Linked DNA regions of Homo sapiens: region 2 is linked to region 1. Evidence: fine-mapped QTL for protein levels in blood plasma. A gene starts in region 1. The other region holds a variant in brackets. All regions are shown on one strand. Distances are between the middles of the regions.

Region 1 (5,386 bases):
ATGCTCATGGAGGCTTAGACTAGGAATGCAAGCTACGATCAAGACAACAGACCTACCTCAGAAACTAACCTTGCTAGTGTCACCCTTCCTAACAAGAACATGAACCTACTTCCTCTCCTTGGTCCTCTGCCTTTTAAAGGCAGTGCTGTTTTTTCCAGGGATCTGAGGTCTAGACATGGAACAAGTATTTTGGCTACATACCTTTTTGTTTGATTTTATGACAATTCTTCTAAGCCTGTATTGCAAAGTGCTATAACACAGTTGCTTTAGGAGTAAAAAAAGTGAATGAAAACAGTTGTGTGTGTATTAACCTACAAAGTACCTCAGAGAAACTATAGACACCTGGGCTTCACATCACTATAATCCCTGGTATAGAGTAAGTTCCAGATTTCATGTCACTGGTAAATAATGGCACTCAGAAAAAAAAAAATCAAAAATGGAATCATGATAATTATTTGAAGTACATATTATTGGAGAAGTCAACATTATTTAAACAATTTCCACATAAATACTGAAGCCACCTAAAATCTTTTAATTTTTAGCAACTTGTGTTACACATTCTTAAAGAATATTATTAAATTCTCAAAATATTGGTTGTTGAGAGCTATAAAACAAACTGTATTCAACTCAGTTATTTCATTGGATTTGTTTTTTGAATATTTAATAAAATAGTTCAAACACCTAGAAAATATAGCAGATACTTATGTATACTCGAATCAAATTATATTAATATGCCCTATATCCATGAAGTTTAGTGAATTTTCCCAAATTCATCTCCAATATCAATTCGATTTTCGTTATTAAAATTAGAATGTTTTCAAACCGAAGGGGAGAGACTGATGGCAATGATAAATGTATTTGTGATATGTAGTTCAGGTTTGGATACTGCCTTCTACCTATGTCACATAGGCTGAGTGAGCTACAGAGGCACACCACTATCTGGAGTATCTAAGCAATAAACACGCTGAACCCAACACACTGGCCAACCACTCCTTCACTCTACAACAGGCTTCATATACTCTCCTGTGTTAAAGATTTTGGTAACTGCCTAAATTTTTGTTTCATTGGGCCAGTAAACCCTTTATGAATTACTACATGGCAAACATTTTTTAAAATAAAACAAAAATTCTAATAGCCCCAATCTCCCTGACCCTAACTACAAGAAAAAAAAAAAAGCCTACAATTTCATTGCTTTGCTTAAAATAGGATGTAGATATAAAATCTTTTTACAGAAAAGCATCTTTGTTCCCTTTTAACAGTGACAATCTATACACTGCCTTAATTGGGCCCCTGTATTTCTCAGCATGAATTTCATTTTTTACTGAAGATTTTCTTTAAAGCAGGTAAAACCGGTTTGTTCTTTAAAAAAAAAATCAATAAGAAAAACACTCCAGAATGAGGAGCAGGAAAATAATGCATGATAGTAAGGGGATCTCTTCAAATAAGATGATTTAATCGGTCCTCAAAGAGTTTCTAACACAGGGGCCAATCACCCAGAAGACAAACTAGCAAAATCAGTTCATGCCACAGAGCCTTTGCATTTCAATCCTTCCACACATATTGACTGGAGACTCACAGAGAAATGGTGCCTTTGCTACAGCCACCCCTTGTTCATCAGCACTGATGAGATTTGGGGAGAGCACCCAGAAATCACTAACTCTGTTTTTTAAAATACTAAATTAAAAAAAATAAAGCCAAACCTTACCAGAAAGGAGCAAGCTGACTCCACAGAGAACTAAGCTGGCTAAAGAGTCCATGCTTCCCCAAATCTCTCCATCCAGTTTCCACAAATGTGCATGAGGTCCCAAGGATCCTTTCAAAAACCCAGCGGTTTGTGACTTTCCATTAGCATCGTCCTACTACGTCTTGTTTACAAGTTAGAGGCAAGAAGGAACAGCACAGAAGCAGGCTGTAACAGTCTCATTTCTGTCTGAGCACAGGGAGTTTTAAGTTCCTTTTTCCTGTTTCCTTTGTAGATTAGGATGGGAAAGGCTGTATCTTAAAGGCATTTGGTATCAGCAGGGCTGGGGGCACTCAAGCCCTATCCATCTCGCAATTCATCAAAACACTTATCTGTTGCTGTTGCTTCTGCTGCTGCTTTTGCTGCTGCTGTAGGGGCAGAGGAATTTTTGTTGGAAGTGTGGGTCCCGGTCAGCATTTTCAGAAACAATAGGGGTATCCTCTCATAGGCGGGAAACTGAGAATAACAAGCCCTCCACCTATGTATGGTATGCGATGATGACCAATCCTTCTCAGACTTCTAACAGCTCTCCCGGGGCTACTGGGATCTCTGACAGAAGGAGCTTTTGGGTGTGGGAAGCCGTTTTGGCTTTTGTTTTCTCATTTTAACCCACATGGTTTGAATTGGGAGAAGAAGGTTTCCGTGATGAGAAAATACAACCTGAAAAGCAATTAATTTCAGTGAGCACCGGTGAGGTCAATGCTCAATGTAGCCCCAAGAGACCAGAGTCCAAAATTGTTAGCCTGTTTTCTTTCACACAGATGGCCTGTTGGTTGGCCATTAGCCCAAAGATACCCATGTTGCCGGCTATAGCTTTAATTTTCATTAACAATTCATCTAAAGGTGATCAAATTTCTTGAAGAAGTTGGCATAGAAGGATTTTGGTAATGAGAAAGATTTGGTAGTCATTGAGCAATGGTGTTTCAGAAGCAAATTATATATAACATTTAAAAACTAATCTGTGTAAAAACACAAACATACAGGATTAGATTGGGATAAAAATGGTGCTCATGAGAGCAAAGAGAGTTCATGGACCAAAATGAAAATAGCCATGGAATGTACAATATCTAGAATGAGGTCAGAGACCCTACACTTATCCAGATAATTACTCCACAATATGAATTATGACATTAGATTAGAGAGTATACACTTTGCTCATCATCGACCTTCATGCCTGAGGAAATCATTATACTCCTCCTTTTCCTACCCACCAGAGGAAAAGGCAGATGCAGCTAGTCTTGACTAATTTCTGTCCCAGGTTTTATCACATCGATGATGATCTTAAGAACCAATTAATGTTTCCAGTTTGCAGGTGTGAAAAAGCCCAGGTTCTGTCTGCAAACAGAACTGGGTTCAAATACTGGCTCAGCCACATGTGTAGCTGAGAAAAGTTACTTAGTCTTTTTGAGCCTCAGTTTCAACAGCTGTGAAATGGCAAAAATATCTCCTTCCCAGGTGTTTTGAGAGGAATAAATGAGGTTTAAAAATATAAAACCATTTGGTACTATGCCTAGTTCTTTGAAGGTTCTCATTAAATGTTAATAAGTTTATTTTCTTTCATCTTTCCATTCAGTCTCAATTTAAATTCCAAGAGCTTCTACTAAAAAGCTATTTTCTATTCCTATGAGATGACTTTAAATTTGTCATCACGAAAAAAAAAAACAAAAACAGTGGGCCTGGCACAGTGGCTCACGCCTATAATCCCAGCACTTTGGGAGTGGATCACCTGAGGTCAGGAGTTTGAGACCAGCCTGGCCAACATGGCAAAACCCCATCTCTACTAAAAATACAAAATTTAGCTGTGCTTGCTGGCGTGCACCTGTAACCCCAGCTACTCTGGAGGCTGAGGCAGGAGAATTGTTTGAACCTGGGAGGCAGAGGTTGCAGTGAGCCGAGATCGTGCCACTGCACTCCAGCCTGGGTGACAGAGCAAGACTCTGTCTAAAAAAAAAAAAAAAAAAAAGAAAAAAAAGAAAGAAAAATGAAGTTCCACACAGGCTAAGTTACTTGCTCTGCTGTGAGTAGCAGAGGTAATAATATCTGAATCCTGAGCTCTGGACCTCCAATTTTTCCCTTGTTTCATAGTTGAAAAGTAGATCAAGAGTAATGTAGGACATCACAAACACCAGCAGGGTACACCTAGACCTTACAGAAGTATTTGAAATGAAACTTTGACAGATAAGAATAGTTTGGTGACACTGAGAAGTGCGGTCAGTTCTTAGTGTGCTTCTGAAATAACTAATGTCAGGATCGGTGGGTGCTGTATTAATTCACTTCAGGAAAATGAAAGGGGCCTCCTCATGAGTCAAGCTCATTCCATTTAATTTGATTTTTCCAGACATACCTACAGTAAAAGCATAAAGAAAACCAAACCAAACTAAACAAACAAACAAGGCTCTTGGCTGATTCTTCATTTTCTATTTCCTGCTTTTTGCACTCAATACATGAAAAACACTATAGACAACATTAAAAGTCTTTGAGACTAATTAACAAAGGTATCAATAGATAACAAAACGGTTTTTCTGAAAGAGGTGGAAAATAACTTACATAATACTACTATACACTGGTATCACATGTCAAGAGGTCAACATCACAAACACAAAGCAAAAGCCTTGTATGCATACCCTTTGGCCCAGAAAATCCAGTTTTTTTTTTTTTTGAAATAGAGTCTCACTCTGTCGCCCAGGCTGGAGTGCAGTGGCACTATCTCGGCTCACTGCAACGTCCGCCTCCTGGGTTCAAGCGATTCTCCTGCCTCAGCCTCCTGAGTAGCTGGAATTACAGGCGTGCACCACCACACCCGGCTAATTTTTATACTTTTTAGTAGAGATGGGGTTTCACCATATTGGCCAGGATGGTCTTGAACTCCTAACCTCATGATCCACCCCCCCCCCCCCTTGGCCTCCCAAAGTGCTGGGATTACAGGTGTAAGCCACTGCGCCCCACCAGAAAATCCATTTTTATGATATACACCAAGCCAAAATCAAATATGTGCCCCCAAATTTGTGTATAAGGACATTATAGAAGCATAGTTGATAATAATCAAAGCCTAGAAATAATCAAAATGGTCAACAAAAATGGATTATTTATTAAAAATCATGGTATACAATGAAGTTCCAGACAAGTGTTCAAATACTATGGTGAAATCAGATTGACATAAAAAGATGTGAAAATGTTTATGGTATACTGTTGATTGGGAAAAAAACACAATTTAAACAGAATGAAATTTATACACACTGAAATACACACCACAGATATACAACAAATAAATATCAAAGCGTTGAAAGTGACTATTTCTGAGTTGTTGGAAAACATAATTTTTATTTTCTTTTTTATACTTTTCTATAATTTTAACACTTTTAGAAATAACGAACATATATGTAAAAATGAAGAAGACTGAGGGGACGTCCTTGAGAAAGTTGACCCAGGGCAATAGGATGTATACTTTAAAACATCCACTGGCAAATAAGAAACAGAATCCAGGCTACCATATGACCCAGCAATCCCACTGCTGGGTATACACACCAAAGAAAGGAAATAAGTACATCAAAAATACATTTACACTCCCATATTTGCTGCACCACTGTTTACAATACCTAAGATATGGAAGCAACGTAAGTGTCCATCAATAGATGAATGGATAAA
Region 2 (5,331 bases), 74 kb before region 1:
CATCTCATTGTTTAATAAGAAGTTTCCTAGGAGAGATCAAGAAGCTAAATGTAATGCTAATATAATTATTGGCTTATTTCCAAAGCTATTGTAGTAGCCCTGAAAGTTTATTTTGGATTGATGCCCTGTCAGATCCTGCTGTTGTATTTGTGTGTTTAGGAGTACGGGGTAAACACTTACAAGCAAGACACCTGAAGCATGATTTCTTTTAAACTCCTCCTCATAAGATTTGTTCCTTTCCTATCTAACACAGAGATGGCTGCGTGGGAGGACAAAGTGACTTCCTAAGTGTTTGAGAGGCTGTCAAGTGGGGAGTACTGGAAAAATCCAGGGTTCTGAAGAGAGATGGACCTCTGCCATTTTTTTTTTTTTGAGAGACAACAAAGTCTTGTTCCTTGGCTCAGGCTGGAGTGCAGTTGAGTGATCATAGTTCACTGCAGCCTCAAACTCCTGGCCTTAAGTGATCCCCCCACCTCACCCAAGTAGCTGGGACTACAGGTATATGCCACCATGTCCAGCTAATTCTTTTTTTATTTTTTAAGAGATGGGGTCTTGCTATGTTGCCCAGGCCGGTCTCAAATTTCTGGCCTAAAGTGATCCTCCCACCTCAGGCTTCCAAAGCACTGGGATTGCAGGCATGAGTCACCGTATCTGGCCTCTTTGCCATTTTTGACCAATTCCTTAGTTACTTAACTTCACCCAGCCAGTTCCCACTTCCGCCAAAAAAAAGAGACACTAGGCAATGTTAAGTAAGAAGTTACATATAGTTATGGCCAACCTTACTAAATAGTAGCCATTACTTTCATTAACTCATGAAAAAGCCAATAAGATTTTGGAAGCCATCAATTGGCTTCTTCTACCTGATGGGTTGTTTGAGTGGAATCAGGGACATTGAAACGTGGACCCTAGTAATGGTACATTCTACATATTCCTCCCTCAGAAGGTCACTCATACCTGCCTCTGGTCAAGCTGATTTTGGTCATCTTTGATAGAAAAATAGGATAATAAGTATTTCTAAATTTTTAGATTAAAAAATACATCAATATCCTAAGGATCACTTTCAACACAAGAGAAATTTGGGGTGGCTCCTGTCTCTGCTGCATTTGGTATAGTTGGGAGAGAGAAGGAAAGCATGTTCGAAAAGTAGCTTGATCCTTTTAAACAAAAAATAACTGCTGTGATATTACCTGACCATGGGTGAGCATCAGCAATGAAGGCAAAGGGAAGAGGTGGGTAGAAACCCAATGAATGCATTCAGACCTAAGGGATCCCGTGGATTGTAGTTTCAGAACTGGGGAACTCTCCTCTTCTATGCTCCCCTAAACTGCTGCTCCAAAGAGCGTAATAGGAGTGGACCGGTCATCAAAACTCCATGTCCTGGTTGCACTTGGTAGCACGTAAATCTGCTGATTCATGGGTTGCAACACCACCTTACTCTCCTGATATGAGTAGTTAGAGATATGGGGACACTGCGAGAGCAAAGCTTTGCACAGATTGACACGTACTTCTCCCCATACCAGCTGGACAGTCCTGCAGGATGTGTGCCATCCTTGGCACCCAGCTCTGTCAGTTCCCCAGGAGGCATATTCCCAACCATGCAGAGCAGTACTGGCCAACAGAAGAAATCAGTGAGGCTGCAGTGAGTCAGTTCTGCCTCTCCAGGAATAGGGCATTTTATCAAAGCCAACAACACACTAGCCTAGGAGGATAAAAGCACTGAATGGTATCTATCATTTAGTGGGGTGATTACTACACTGAAGCATCTCATGCTTTAAGAAGGGCAAATTAAGAATGGCTCTTACATGGAGCACTGTCCCATCCGGCTTCACCAGGGTCATTTCTTCATTAGTAGGTAGCGGCCAGCCAGAAGCTTTGCAAATGGGATTAAATTTACCACTGTTTACTTCTATATGATCTGGCAAATCCACTATCTTTGGGGTCATCCTC[T/G]GTATGCCTGAAGGAAGAAAACAGCACTGTGAAATCTAATATTTAACAGAGCCAGCAGCAGTAGTAATAATAAAAATAGCTACTTTAGTAAGTCATGCACCGGGCAAGAACTTTGCAAATATTTTACTGTTTTGTCATCACATAAGACACCTGTGATGTGGATGATATTGTGGTCTCCCATTTTATGGATGAGGAGACAGAGGCTCACAGCCCAGATTCAGACTCAGATCTTTATAAATCCAGAGTCCACGCTCTTTGCCATGAGGCTGTGCTCCTTTCATGGACCAGGGAGGAACAGTCTCAATATTAAAATGATTATCATGGCCATATCTCCCCTAGACTTTGCTGTTCAATCCCCCTCTTTCTTTTTACATGAATGATTACAAAAATACAACAAACAAAAAACTAGTTCTTCCTCCACTCATCAAATAACCCCATGGTATTGCTGTTCAACAGCATTGACCTCAGTTTAGATATACGAGAGATGTCTCATTCATTGGGAAGTCTGCAAATAGCAGATAACTAAGAGGAAAAGGTGAATAAAGTTGCTCACAAAAGAAGTACATCAAAGAAGTGAAATATAACTTCCCCAAATCAGTATCCACTCAACAGCCAAATCAAAAATGTTGCTGCCAATATTGAAAGAAGGAAAAATGTCTGTAGTGTCAATAAAGGTAATGGTGTCAGGATTTCTTGCCTAACATCTACACAGTAGAGAATGAATAACCCTGAAATATACCAATTTTATTCTGAACCATAGGGACTCAGGGAACTGTGGACTATTTGTAATTGAATGTGAGACATGTTTGAAAATTGTCCAACACTCAGTAAACAATGTAGGCGATAGAGGTGCCCTCAGAGCAGCAGTAACTACAGACTGTTTCTTATCGGTGGTGGGAAGAGGCGGGGTCAATAATGATATTTTATACTGATATCCTACTTCTCAGGCCTAGAATGAAATGGGTAAAGGTGTGGAGGAGAAGGGAAAGAGGTCTAATACTTACAAGGTTATTCCTTGATATATCTGTAAACTTGGAAAGATTATGGAAAACGTGCCAAGTTTTTCAGCCTAAGTAGCTATTTGAATAGGAATTGAAAAACATGTTTTGACACTTTTAAAGCATTTCTTTCCTTCATCGTCCCCTTGTATTTTCTGAAGCTGGGTGGGGGTGAAGGTGGATGTGCTGGGCTAAAGTGGAATCTGGGAAGGGAGCTACTCTCTGAAAGCCCTAGTGACACCCTGGTTAACCTGTCTTAGATTCTCCCATCAGAATGCACTCCTTTTGCAGCATCAGCAGAAGGGAACAGACGGGAAGGAACAAAGCACAAAATTCAAATCCTTAAACTTGTTAGCTGCCCACGTTCAATACAATCCCCTAGTAGCCCCATGGCATTTCCTTCCCTTTCTAACCACTCCCTGATTCCTGCCCTGTAGTAAAGTCCAGGCTTGGCAAAAGAAGAAAAAATATAAAGTTTAAGGACTTTGAGAAAACACTTACTGGCATCCCACCCCCACTCCCAATATTTGTTCTGATTTCCAAAAGTAACAGAAAAAAAGGCCATAGCTGTATTATTGTGAGTGTAGATTTCACTGGATATGTATTTATTTCAATGGCATTTATATTTATATGATTGAAAAAGCAATACATATTTATTAAGTTTGAAAATACATATGTCTGCTTCTTTTAATTTTAAAAAGTATATTCTACGACAGTGGATAGCAAACATTTTCTGTAAAGAGAGCAAATACAGTCAGCTTTGCAAGCCATGTTTTCTGCCCTTGTAGTACAAAAGCAGCCACAGACGACATACTATAAATGAATGGAGGTGGCTGTGATCCAAAATTTTTTTCTTTATAATAACAGATGGTGAGAAATAAAAAAGGAATGAAGTACTGATACATGCCACAACATAGATAAACCTCAAAAAAGGTGTGGCAAATGAAGCTAGTCACAAATGACGACGTATTATACAATCTTGTTTACAGCATATAAAATGTCAAGAACAGGCAATCTACAGAGACAGAAGATATGGTTGACCCTTGAACAATACAGGCTTCAACTGCATGGGTCCACTGACATGTGGATTTTTTTCAATAAATATATTGGAAAATTTTTTGGAGATTTAGGATAATTTGAAAAAACTCACAGACAAACTGTGTAGCCTAGAAATACCAAAAAAATTAAGAAAAAGGTATGTCATGAAGGCATAAAATATATACAGATACTAGTCTCTGTGTTAATTGACTATGTTATTGGTAAGGCTTCTCGTCAACAGAAGGCTATTAGTAGTTAAGTCTTTGGAGAGTCAAAAATTATATGTAGATTTTCTACTGCGAGAAGGGTCAGTACCCCTAGCCCCCATGTTGTTTAAGGTCAACTGCAAATAAATGGTTGTCAGAAATTAGGATGATTGGAAAATGGAAGTTTCTATTAATGGGTACAAGGTTTGTTTTGGTATGATGAATATGTTGTAAAATTAGATTATGGCAATGATGGCATAGCTCTGTAAATATACTAAAAACCACTGAATTTACATTTTAAAAAGTTGAACATTATAATATAAAAAATGTATCTCTATAAAGCTGTTTAAAAAAAGATAGTGGGCTGGATTTAGTCTGTGGGTTAAAGTTTGCTGACTCCTGCTGAAGAGTAACTTCTGAACTAGAATGACATAAAATTTCATTTTGAGCATAATCTTTTCTATTTGTTTTATTCTTTCTATTGCTTTAAAAATATCCCCTGTCTAAATCCATCCCAAATTGCTCTTTCTCTGTTACGCATGTCCAGGGAAAAGGTTGGTCCTAGAGAAGGGAGCAGAAAAGGTAGGAGAGCTCTCAGCTGGCCAGTCATCACTTAAGCTGCTACAAAGAGCACGTGGTTTATGCCTAGTGCAAAGACAAATAAAGCCTACTATTAGGGTCAGTAGAGCAGAATTAAAATGCTGTGCTTTAGGATTTAGGATAAACTATTCCCAACTTCTGGATGGAAACAAAAGAGGCTTGAGGATCTTAGAATGCCGGCACAAGAATTACACTACCAAAGCTCAGTTCAGACATGCTGAACATGGCCCTGACTACAGTGTTACCTTGCTTTACCTTCTCTCTCACACTGGAGCCCCTGCCATCCTGGAGAGCAGAGACATCCTTGGAAGCGATCACACATCTCCCCATTGTTGCAGCTGCACCTAAGCTTACAATCTGGCCCGTAAAAACCAGGGTGGCATGCTGTAAACAGAGACATCAAAAAACCAGTATTAATCCAGGGGAAGAGAGGAAACTAAGACTGCAGGTGTTTAGTTTTATTTTTCTCTCTAAGCCATCAACTTTGCTGATTTGTGTAAGGTAGGGGGTAATTTATCTGAATTACCAGGAACTTAAAAAGC

What was found. PIP is the chance, under the fine-mapping model, that this variant and not a neighbour inherited with it causes the effect. Sun 2018 read protein levels with aptamers (SomaScan).
Region 2: its variant is fine-mapped to the plasma level of the TEK protein (Sun 2018, PIP 0.95). The variant lies in the coding sequence of TEK. If it changes the protein, the assay may bind it differently, which can mimic a change of level.

What each region holds. Positions count from the first base shown.
Region 1 is chr9:27,105,962-27,111,347 of GRCh38, reverse strand. TEK (TEK receptor tyrosine kinase) reads right to left here and starts at 2,123. Exons shown (of 23, transcript NM_000459.5): 1 at 1,706-2,123. The coding sequence starts at 1,757. It overlaps LOC124902134 (a long non-coding RNA gene), which reads right to left. Exons shown (of 2, transcript XR_007061440.1): 2 at 4,807-5,386.
Region 2 is chr9:27,180,082-27,185,412 of GRCh38, reverse strand. TEK (TEK receptor tyrosine kinase) reads right to left here. Exons shown (of 23, transcript NM_000459.5): 7 at 5,045-5,173; 8 at 1,803-1,954. Among named protein-coding and RNA genes, the nearest start is that of TEK, 74 kb to the right of the region's middle. The variant T/G (reference allele first, on the strand shown) is at 1,948.